Regions from separate parts of the Homo sapiens genome. Here region 2 is linked to region 1. Evidence: fine-mapped expression QTL. A gene starts in region 1. The other region holds a variant in brackets. All regions are shown on one strand. Distances are between the middles of the regions. Region 1 holds the start of KCNIP2-AS1 (KCNIP2 antisense RNA 1). Region 2 overlaps ARMH3 (armadillo like helical domain containing 3).

Region 1 (5,370 bases):
GGCAAACCTTCCCTATGAGACTGGACTATGGAAAGTAGGAGAAATTGTGGCTGCTGACTTGCTGGCAGTGATTAAGGCAAAGAGGAAAATGTCATGAGACTAAGGACATCAGCCAGAATGACAGCCCCCAAATCTCCTGTCAACCTATAAGGAAGAAGCTGAGGCAAAATGAATACAAGTAGAGAGTTTATTATAAGCTTGAGGATTGCAACGAAAGAGCATAGATTCAAGTTGCCCTAAATAGACACTCTGATTAGCAGCAGTTACAAGTGGATTTTTATAGGGAAAGAAGAGGCAGTTCCTGAGTTATTTACCAACAGTTTACATTAAAATAACATAAGCTATTGATTGGCTATACATTGTTAAACTATAGGGTGTGTGTTAGAATGTCCAGTACAACATTATTAGGTTAATTTATAGCTACTTGTGGCAAGAGCAAGCAGTGTCAAGAGATGAATACATAGCTCAAAGGAGGGAGGCATAGGATGTGATTCTGTCATTTTCTTTTCTTTTTTTTTTTTTTTGAGACTGAGTCTCACTCTGTTGCCCTGGCTGGAGGGCAGTGGCACGATCTTGGCTCACTGCAACCTCTGCCTCCCAGGTTCAAGTGATTCTCCTGCCTCAGCCTCCCAAATAGCTGGGATTACAGGCGCGCACCACCATGCCCAGCTATTGTTTGTAGTTTTAGTAGAGACGGAGTTTCAACATGATGGCCAGGCTATTCTTGAACTCCTGACTTTCTGCCCGCCTTGGCCTCTCAAAGTGCTGGGATTACAGGCGTGAGCCACTGAGCCCGGCTGATTCTGTCATTTTAATGCCTCGCTGGGCCTATTTATTTATTTTTAATTTTTAAAGATTTATTTATTTTTTAATTTTTTTTTTTTTAGAGGCAGGGTCTTGTTCTGTGGCTCAGGCTGGAGTGCAGTGGTGAGATCCTAGCACTACAGGTGCACACCACTACGCCTGGCTTTTTTTTTTTTTTTTTTTTTTTGTTTTTTTTTTGAGATGGAGTTTAGCTTTTGTTGCCCAGGTTGGAGTGCAATGGCACGATCTCGGCTCACGCAACCCGGGTTCAAGTGATTCTCCTGCCTCAGCCTCCCGAGTAGCTGGGATTACAGGCATCTGCCACCATGCCCAGCTAATTTTGTATTTTTAGTAGAAACGGGGTTTCTCCATGTTGGTCAGGCTGGTCTCGAACTCCCGACCTCAGGTGATCCATCTGCCTCGGCCTCCCAAAGTGCTGGGATTACAGGTGTGAGCCACCACGCCCGGCCTATTTTTATTTTTTTATAAAGACTGGGTCTGGCAATATTGCCCAGGCTGGTTGCAAACACCAACACTGCGCCCAGCCATCTGGGCCTGATAATTTAAAAGGACTCTCATTCCTCAGATAAAAGTTCTTTTCGGCCAGGTGAGGTGGCACGTGTCTGTAATCCCAGCACTTTGGGAGGCTGAGACTGGAGGATCACCTGAGCCCAAGAGTTTGAGACCAGCTTGGGCAAGATGTTGAGACCCCCGTCTCTACCAAAAATGAACAAATTAAAAGAGTGTGGTGGCGGGCACTCGCCTATAGTCCCAGCTACTCGGGATGGCTAAGGCGGGAAGATCCCTTGAGAGCCCAGGAATTCGATACTTAAGCTATGATTGCACTAGCCTGCGTGGCAAAATGAGACCTCTTCTCTTACAAAAAAAAAAAAAAAAAAAAAATTGTGTTCTCAACCCCAACGGACCACAATATCCAGTAAAGCTGCTATGGCCCCTAACTCTCAGCACAGGAGGTCCCTTAAGAAAATGCTTGTCCGGCCGGGCGCGGTGGCTCACACCTGTAATCCCAGCACTTTGGGAGGCCGAGGCAGGTGGATCACCTGAGGTCAGGAGTTCAAGACTAGCCTAGTCAACGTGGCGAAACCCCGTCTCTATTAAAAACACAAAATTAGCCGGGTGTGGTGGCGGGTGCCTGTAGTCTCAGCTACTCGAGAGGTTGAGGCAGGAGAATAGCCTGAGCCCAGGAGGTGAAGGCTGCAGTGAGCCGAGATTGCGCCACTGCGCTCCTGCGCTCCAGCCTGGGCGACAGAGTGAAACTCTGTCTCAAAAAAAAAAAAAAAGTTTGCTCCTAACCCCCATCTCAACAATCCAGGACTGAAAAGAAGAGGGACCATGAAAGTCCCTGAAACTACAAGTTGGGCTACGGCTAAAGAAGGTAAATATCAGACTGAAGTGTAAGATGGACATTACTAAGTCTTAATCATCATTTCATGTTTATACCTCACAGGTTGAGATAGATTTCTCAAGCATCATAAATGTAAAGTGCATTAGGGTAGGTCTACAAGAGAGCTCTGAGAACATACAGCAAGGAGACCCAAACCCATCTAGGGCTCAGGGAAGGCTTCCCAAGGAAGCGATGCCCATGCCGAGGCCGAAGGGATCTCATGCCCCACTGCACACACCGCGCGCTCCCCATTCCCAAACAAGGCAGGCTTTTCATGCCTCCCTACCTTTGGACTCTGTTGTTCGTTCCACTTTCCTGGAGTGCTGTCTTCCCTCCCCTTCTGCTCAGTCAGGCTAACTTCACATCCTTTATAATCCAGCTGAAAAGTGAAGCCATGCCCACGGCCTCTCCCCAAAGGAGGAGTGAGTATCACCTGTTCTGAGCTCCGAAGTTCTTGGGGACACCTTGTGGGAACTGCGTGTGTGGTGGCTTGTCTCCACCACCGTACTGTGAGCTCATAGTGTTCTAGAGCCCAGCACGAGGCAAGCTCTATAGATGTCTACTGAATGAAGGAATGAACGAATGATTACATTTTAAATGGGATTAGGGGAAAATGATTCAAGGCAGAGGGGTGAGCTGAGCTCCTTGGAATGGTGTCTTTACCGAACCAAGCCTGGGTTAGGCAGATGTAATGAGCCCACCTATTACAAGAATCTCCATAGAAAGTAGGTCAGTTCTTTCCTATCTCTTTAAGAACGAGAGGCCGCGGCTCCGCGCCTGCGCACTGAGAGAATAAACACCTCTCCTTTTCACCTTCCCCCCTTCTCCCTATTGCCCCAACCGGCGGCAGCCTCCTCCCATACTCCCCTCCTTCGGGGCGGGTAATGGTCCGTCCGTCCCAGGGTGCCAGGCTTGTTTCGGAGGGTGGCAAGCAGAAATGGTACATTCCACTGCCTTCATTACCTTCTGCTTTTCGCGTCTCCTGTTCTATTTCCCCCTACCTAAAGAAGCTTAATAGGCTAGCCCCAAAGAAGGCGGGGGAGCCGGGCGGAGGGGACCGGTCTGAGCCGGTCTGCAGCGCAAGCGCAGTGCGGATAAACAGGAAGCGGGCGGTGGAGGCAGCAGCAGAGGGAGAGCTCGGGGCTTGGAGGGGAAACAGCGGAAGACCTAAGATTATCGGGAGGGCAGCAGAGGCAGAGAACGAGGACAGGACCCTTGGCCGTCTTCTTCCAGGGAACGAGAGGTCACAGCCTCGCTCTCCGCTTAGGCTTCTGGCGCCCCAGCTTAAAGCCGAGGCTGCGGCTGACAAAGGGCTCGCGCCGGTGCCGCCGCCCTTCTCATCCGGGCATTCGGGTCCCTGCGGAGAGGGAGGGGGAAGGGCAGAGGGGGAGGGGAAGGAGCCGGAGGGGCGCACACTTGGAGCTGAAGCCCTCTCCAGGGCTCCGGGCCGGTGCCCCAACGGACAGAGGTCGAGGAGGACCCGCAGAGGTGGCAGCGGCCGGGGGCAGGAGGATGGTGCAGAAGGAGAGTCAAGCGACGTTGGAGGAGCGGGAGAGCGAGCTCAGCTCCAACCCTGCCGCCTCTGCGGGGGCATCGCTGGAGCCGCCGGCAGCTCCGGCACCCGGAGAAGACAACCCCGCCGGGGCTGGGGGAGCGGCGGTGGCCGGGGCTGCAGGAGGGGCTCGGCGGTTCCTCTGCGGTGTGGTGGAAGGTGAGCGCCCTCCTTCCCTCCCCGTTTTGGCACTAACACGTTCTGTCCTCGGGAGGAGGGTGGTGGCGGGGATTTTGGAGACTCTAAAAGGCCGGAAAGCCTCTGGGTCTGAAATGTGGCCCTCCTAAAGCGAGGGGAGAGACGAGATGTTGGGCGAATCTCCTTGCACGTCTTAAGACGGCGTCGAATTCCCCCCTGGCCACTCACAAGTCTGACCCCACCCGTCTTGGGCTTGGAGCCAGGCCACCTCCTAAGGAGGCGGTGGTTAAGAGCCTGGTGTTCTGTTAGCCTCTGAGTTCTACTTCTTTGTACCTTGGGATCTTATTCCCTAGGGTTGTCTGGTTCCAGTGAAAAAATATGTGTAGTGCTTCTGTCACCACCCTTTGTGGAAAATCGGCCCACACTGACGTGCTTGTACTTCTGGAGTGAAGAGAAGCACGTTTGGCCTATAGTATTTCAAGTTCCACTTGGCTTAGAATATTTTTGTTGCTTCCCCCCACCCCCGCAAAGATTCATTTGCAACTTAGAAAATTGCCCTCTTTCCCAGCTACTGTACTTTGCTCTCGAGGGATGAAACTTTGGCTTTAATCACAGATTCTCGAAGTATCTGAGATGCGTAATTGGAATTTAGTGACCGCAGAAGCGGCTTTAAAAATGCCCTTCTCGCCTTTTTTCCCATTTACAGTCGAAAAGAACGATGGACTTTTTGGTAGTGAGGGAAAATTACCAGATGCTTGTTTCAGTTTCTGGATGAGAATGGACAGATAGTCCACCTTGCAGCTCTGTAGAGGCACGAATCGGTTACATTATTAGTCTTTCCGCAGTTACAGCATGTATTTGAATTTTCTGAAGTATTTTGGCCGATTCAGAGTTTCCTAGATGTCTGTTTTATATCTCTCTCGTATGTAATGGCGTGGATAAGGGTAAAAAATATATATATTTAAAAAACCAAAAAGGTATGGAAAAAGGATTGCTCTCGACGTTGAGAACATCAGCTTTTCTGTTTTTTTTCACCATATAAATTAGAGTATTCTTTCGAAAAATGGGTGGTGGTTATGGTACAGACCATAACAGGCTACTTTGCTGCTACAGTAAGGCATGAAAGAGTTCAGCGAAGTTAACTGTCTTGCAGAATTTGGGGGATTACAGAATGGAAAACTGCTATATAGTATTCATCAAAAATGATTGCATTGTGTGACTTATATCGTTGTATTTATTGGCTTGAGTGCAGGGAGATTTTAGAAAAAGAATCTGGTTTTTGTTATCAAAGATCTTGGAGTGGGGATGAGAGAGTGCTGGGAAATTTCGGAGCTAGACTGGAATGAGTCTAAGGAAACTTGCCAGTCCATTATACCTTCAGTTATAAAAGGAGAAAACTCATTTGGTTTAAATTCGTTTGTTTAGAATAGCATTAAAAGGCGATTCTTCCTATTTAAAGAACAGAGTTGTC
Region 2 (5,370 bases), 150 kb before region 1:
GAAAAAGATTCCCACGTAAAAGCCCCCAAAAGAGCAAGAAATCACTTTGTTCTTTTCTCTGTGCATGCAGTCACTTCCTATCCAGAAAAATGTCAACTCTCATAGGCCCATGAGCATTTTGTCAAGTAAAAGGGACCAGGGAAGGATTAGCTGTGCTTTTGGTTACTCTGCCTATATTAGTTTCAAAGGGACATGTCATGTGGTTTCATAAGGTATCATCCTTCTCTGGATCTCGAGGGAGCAAGACAAGTCTGTTATTGGTCCTACCTCATTTTGGCAAAAAGTAAAGTTATTGGTTCTGTGTCAGATGGCTCCACTGAGACATGGTCTCATTGACTTTTAGATTTCTTAAAGGGTGATTTTGGCTATCACTCCTTTAGGAAACGGTGGGGGGAAAGGAGCAGGTGGTATAGGGCCCTAGAAGAAGGCAGTGGCTCCTGAGCATGCTTGGTTAGAGGCAGCTGCACAGGGACCCTACATTTCCCAAAGTCTAGGATCTGGGAACTTTCATGTGGAAACTCATTTTCATGAAAAAGAAGAGGCTGGGTGCTAATTGTGAGGTTTGCATTGTCTGCAAGAAAATGGGGAATGGAAGATGGTTGAGAACCTTATTTATTTTTTTTTTTTAGCAGATACACATTGACTGCAAGGAAAATGGTAAGGATGGAAGCAGATTTCCGTTTAAAGAAAGGATTTGTTCTATTTCTGACTCATTTAGAGGAATGTGGAGCCTTTAGTCAGTGCAGGCTGTTGACATACTGACTTGTGTGCTGTGTTCACCTGGAGAGGCTGATAGCATACAGCCAGAGCCATTTCATTTTCTTGTTTGATTCTTTGGCCTCTGTGTCAGTGAAGTGCTTAGGCTTGCATCCAGACAGATGCCTGTATTCTGAAAAGCCACCTAGAGTTGTTCCCCGCCCCCTGCTCCCCCCACGACTGAGTCTTGCTCTGTAGCCCAGGCTGGAGTGCCGTGGCGCGATCCCAGCTCACCGTAACCTCTGCCTCCCTGGTTCAAGCAATTCTCCTGCCTCAGCCTCCCGAGTAGCTGGGAATACAGGCGCACACCACCATGCCTGGCTAATTTTTGTATTTTTAGTAGAGACGGGCTTTTACCATGTTGGCCGGGCTGGTCTTGAACTCCTGACCTTGTGATCCACCTACCTTGGCCTCCCAAAGTGTTAGGATTACAGGCTTGAGCCACCGCATCTGGCTGAGTATTTTTAAATTATTCTACTGGCAGGTGTTGGCTTCAGATTCTCTCCTGCACCACTCTGCTGATTGACAGTGAGCCTGCTGATTGCTGGCAATGTCCCTGGGTAATTGGTGATTTTGTCCAGAGATGCTGGAATTGGCTAGAGTTTATAGTGCTTCCAGGGTTTTGGTGGCATGAGCTTGTTACACTAGTGCTATTTTCATCGTGTCCTTTGAGTTTCTTGACTTCTCTCCTAAGCAACTGAGATGGTAATATTATTCTTTTATTAGTCACTGTGAAATTATCCATCTCTCCTAATGAACAGGTTTTGATTTGGGTTCTGTGGTACCTAAACCTAGCTCCATGCCAGGTCACAAAATCAAGTCTGGGTGAGTGTTGTCTTTGCTGTTTGTCTTCATAGCATGTAAAAGCTGCTCAAATAGACAGCTTTCTCTGACCTGATTCTTTGGAGATATTAGTTTGTGCTCTCCTGGAGGCTGTCTCTTTCCTGTTTTTAATCTTATTTAAATGTCATTCACTTGGTTTTATAATTAAGCCTCCCCTCTCCTTTTTTGAGGCAGAGGCCTGAGCTACCACTTAATTGTGTCTTCCTGTGGTTGGCTTGTTCCTCTCTGCACCTGGTTTACCTTAATGTGGGGGACAGGTTTTAGTCCTGGAGAAGTTCTCATATCCATTATTCATTCTACTGCTACATGGCAACACAATTTGCTGCTACCTTTTTTCCCTCCTCCTGAATTCAAAGCAGGATAGAAAAAATTCTGGGAAAGTTCTCATTGTGTATTAATGCTAGGAACAGCTCTGCAAAAAAGGTTCCTTGTGGGGTGTGTGTTGGGGGCACTGTGTAAGATGGCAGGATTCTCAGATGGATCGTATTCAACTCTTCCTATTTGAAAATTAGGGTGGGCTGGGCGCAGGGGCTCACACGTATAATCCCAGCACTTTGGCCGATCACCTGAAGTCAGGAGTTCGAGACCAGCCTGGTGGAGCCCTGTCTCTACTAAAAATACAAAAATTAGCCAGGCGTGGTGGCGGGCGCCTGTAATCCCAGCTACTTGGGAGGCTGAGGCAGAAGAATTGCTTGAACCCGGGAGGCAGAGGTTGCAGTGAGCCAAGATCACACCATTGCACTCCAGCCTGTCTCAAAAAAAAAAAAAAAAAA[A/C]AAAAAAAAAACCCAAACCAAAAATTAGCCAGGTGTGGTGGTGCATGCCTGTAATCCCAGCTACTCAGGAAGCTAAGGCACAAGAATCGCTTGAACCCGGGAGGTGGAGGTTGCAGTGAGCCGGGATTGCACCACTGCACCACTCCAGCCTGGGTGACAGAGTGAGACTCTGTCTAAAAAAAAAAAAAAAAAAAGAAAAGAAAAAGAAAAAAAAATTAGATTGTCTGCTTCTATCTCTAGGAATTCACGTGGGACTTAGGGAACCATCAGAGTGCCTGGTCCTGGCTCAGCTTCCCGAACCTGTACACTCTTCTATATTCTATCTGCATGTGCATACAGAAAAGTCAGAACTCTACACACTGTTGTCATACTCTTTCAGCAGATATGATGCACAGGACTCCCCAAGGAAGGGAACATGGGCTGAAGCTGAGTGTGAGACTGATAGTTGCCTCTAGTACAGAGTCAAAAGAGAGCAGTTGTAGCCAATTTGGAGTTCCTGAAAAACAGCCCAGAAAATAAGTTTTCAAGGGGCCTGGTATGAAAGACTTGCCAATGAAGAAATGAGTGTGTATTGAGCACTCACTTCCCTACAACTTAAACGTATTTAATGTGTAATATAATACCTCAAATATTTTACTGCAGTAATTTCTCAGTTCTTCACTTGGTGCAGAGTTAAGAGTACTTGGAACCTCATTAAGTATAACAGATGAAACAGCAAGGATTAGGAATCAAACCCAGAGTCCCTGAGGATTTTGTAGGATAGTGTTGGTATTTAGTGCATTGTTAGTTTGGATGGTGAACTTTGGTGATTATTTTGAAGATTGCCACAGTGTTGCCTTGAAGGCTGCCCGGGGTTCATTTTGAATTTGCATTCCTGCTCAAGTTCATGGGCTCTCTGTTGATTGAGTATATTTGGCTCCTTTCCTTTTACCTATCAGTGAGGAAGCATCTTTGTGTGTTTGTCCCTGTACTTAGTATGGTGTACTTTGACGTGAATGTCAGCCAGTCAGTTATGCAGAGGTTACAGAAAGTGAGACTGGAGTGTTTGTGAGGCTGTTGGGAGTGTCTGTGGAAAGAAAAACATTGACCTTTTGTTTTTCTTTTTAATTGGGGTAAAATAAACATAAAATTTATCATTGTAACTATGTTTAACCATACAGTTCAGTGGCATTAAGTATATTCACATTGTGCAACCATCACTACCTTCCATTTCCAGTACTTTTTTTTATCTTCCCAAACTGAAACTCAGTACTCATTAAACAAAAACTTTTTTTTTTCTTTTTTTGAGATGGAGTCTCACTCTGTCACCCAGGTGGGAGTGCAGTGGTGCAATCTTGGTTCACTGCAACTTCCGCCTCTGGGTTCAAGTGATTCTCCTGCCTCAGCCTCCCGAGTAGCTGGGACTATAGGTGTGTACCACCATGCCAGGCTAATTTTTTTTTTTTTTTTTTGGTAAAGACGGGGTTTCACCATGTTACAGGCTGGTCTTGAACTCCTGACCTCAGGTAATCCACCTTCCTTGGCCTCCAAAGTGCTGGGATTACAGGTGTGAGCCACCGTGTCTGGCCAGCAATAATTCTTAATTCCCCCTCATGCCAGACCCTGGCAACACTAATTCTGAATTTGATTACTCTGGGTATTTCATTTAAGTGGAATTAAACAGCATTTGTCCTTTTGTAACTGGTTTATTTCACTTAGAATAATATCTTCAAGGTTCATCTATGTTGTCAGAATTTTCTTCCTTTTTAAGGCTGAGTAATATTCTGCCATATGTATATACCATATTTTGTTTATTCGTTCATCTTTTGATGGACATTTGGGTTGCTTCCACCTTTTGGCTGTTGTGAATGATGCTGCTGTAAACATGGGTGTACAAATACTTGTTTGAGTTCCTGCAATCGCTTGTTTTTTTGAGATTGTGTGCGTTTAATTATCTTAGGCCAGTGGAGTGAAGTCCTAAGACATTTAGAGACATGTACTCTGAGCTGGCCAGGAGTGATGGCTCATGCCTGTAATCCTAGCACTTTGGGAAGCCAAGGCGGGCAGATCACTTGAGGTCAGGAGTTTGAGACCAGCCTGGCCAACGTGGCGAAACCCTGTCTTTATTAAAAATGCAAAAATTGCCGGGCGCAGTGGCTTACACCTGCAGTCCCAGCACTTTGGGAGGCCGAAGTGGGCGGATCACGAGGTCAGGAGATCGAGACTATCCTGGCTAACACGGTGAAACCCCATCTCTATTAAAAATACAAAAAATTAGCCAGGCGTGGTGGCGGGCGCCTGTAGTCCCAGCTGCTCGGGAGGCTGAGGCAGGAGAATGGCGTGAACCTGGGAGGCGGAGCTTGCAGTGAGCCGAGATCACACCACTGCAGTCCAGCCTGGGCGACAGAGCAAGACTCCGTCTCAAAAAAAAAAAAAAAAGAAAGAAAAAGAGAACCCCTACTTTAACGAAAGGGAAATGGCATAAAATAAGTAGGTCAGTAGCCTACTACCACCTTATTTTAAGTTGACCTTTTAAAACTACTACCAGGAGACAGCCAAGTGCAGTGGCCCATGCCTGTAATCCCAGCTACTCGGGAGGCTGAGGCAGGAGAATCGCTTGAACCCAAGAGACAGAGGTCGCGGAGAGCCGAGATCGTGCCGTTGCACTCCACCCTGGGCAACAAGAGCAAAACTCCATCTCAAAAACAAAAATAAATAAATAAAAAATAAAAACAAATAAGTAAATAGGCCAGGCACAGTGGCTCATGCCTGTAATGTCAGCACTTTGTAGGGCTGAGGCGGGTGGATCACCTGAGGTCAAGAGTTCGAGACCAGCCTGGCCAACATGGTGAAACCCCGTCTCTACTAAAAATACAAAAATGGCTGGGCACGGTGGCTCACACCTGTAATCCCAGCACTTTGGGAGGCCGAGTCCAAGGCGACCGGATCACGAGGTCAGGAGATGGAGGCCATCCTGGCTAACACAGTGAAATAAAAAATACAAAAAATTAGGCAGGTG

Evidence for each region. PIP is the estimated chance that this variant, and not a neighbour inherited with it, causes the effect.
Region 2: its variant is fine-mapped to the expression of KCNIP2-AS1 in whole blood (INTERVAL, PIP above 0.99).

The regions. Positions count from the first base shown.
Region 1 is chr10:101,816,374-101,821,743 of GRCh38, reverse strand. KCNIP2-AS1 (KCNIP2 antisense RNA 1) reads right to left here and starts at 2,676. Exons shown (of 3, transcript NR_045118.1): 1 at 2,496-2,676. OGA (O-GlcNAcase) reads left to right here and starts at 3,300. Exons shown (of 16, transcript NM_012215.5): 1 at 3,300-3,920. The coding sequence starts at 3,722. RefSeq lists enhancers at 3,271-3,390, 3,192-3,767 and silencers at 3,541-3,600, 3,681-3,740.
Region 2 is chr10:101,963,299-101,968,668 of GRCh38, reverse strand. The region is part of intron 20 of ARMH3 (armadillo like helical domain containing 3); the gene reads left to right. Among named protein-coding and RNA genes, the nearest start is that of ARMH3, 90 kb to the left of the region's middle. The variant A/C (reference allele first, on the strand shown) is at 2,373.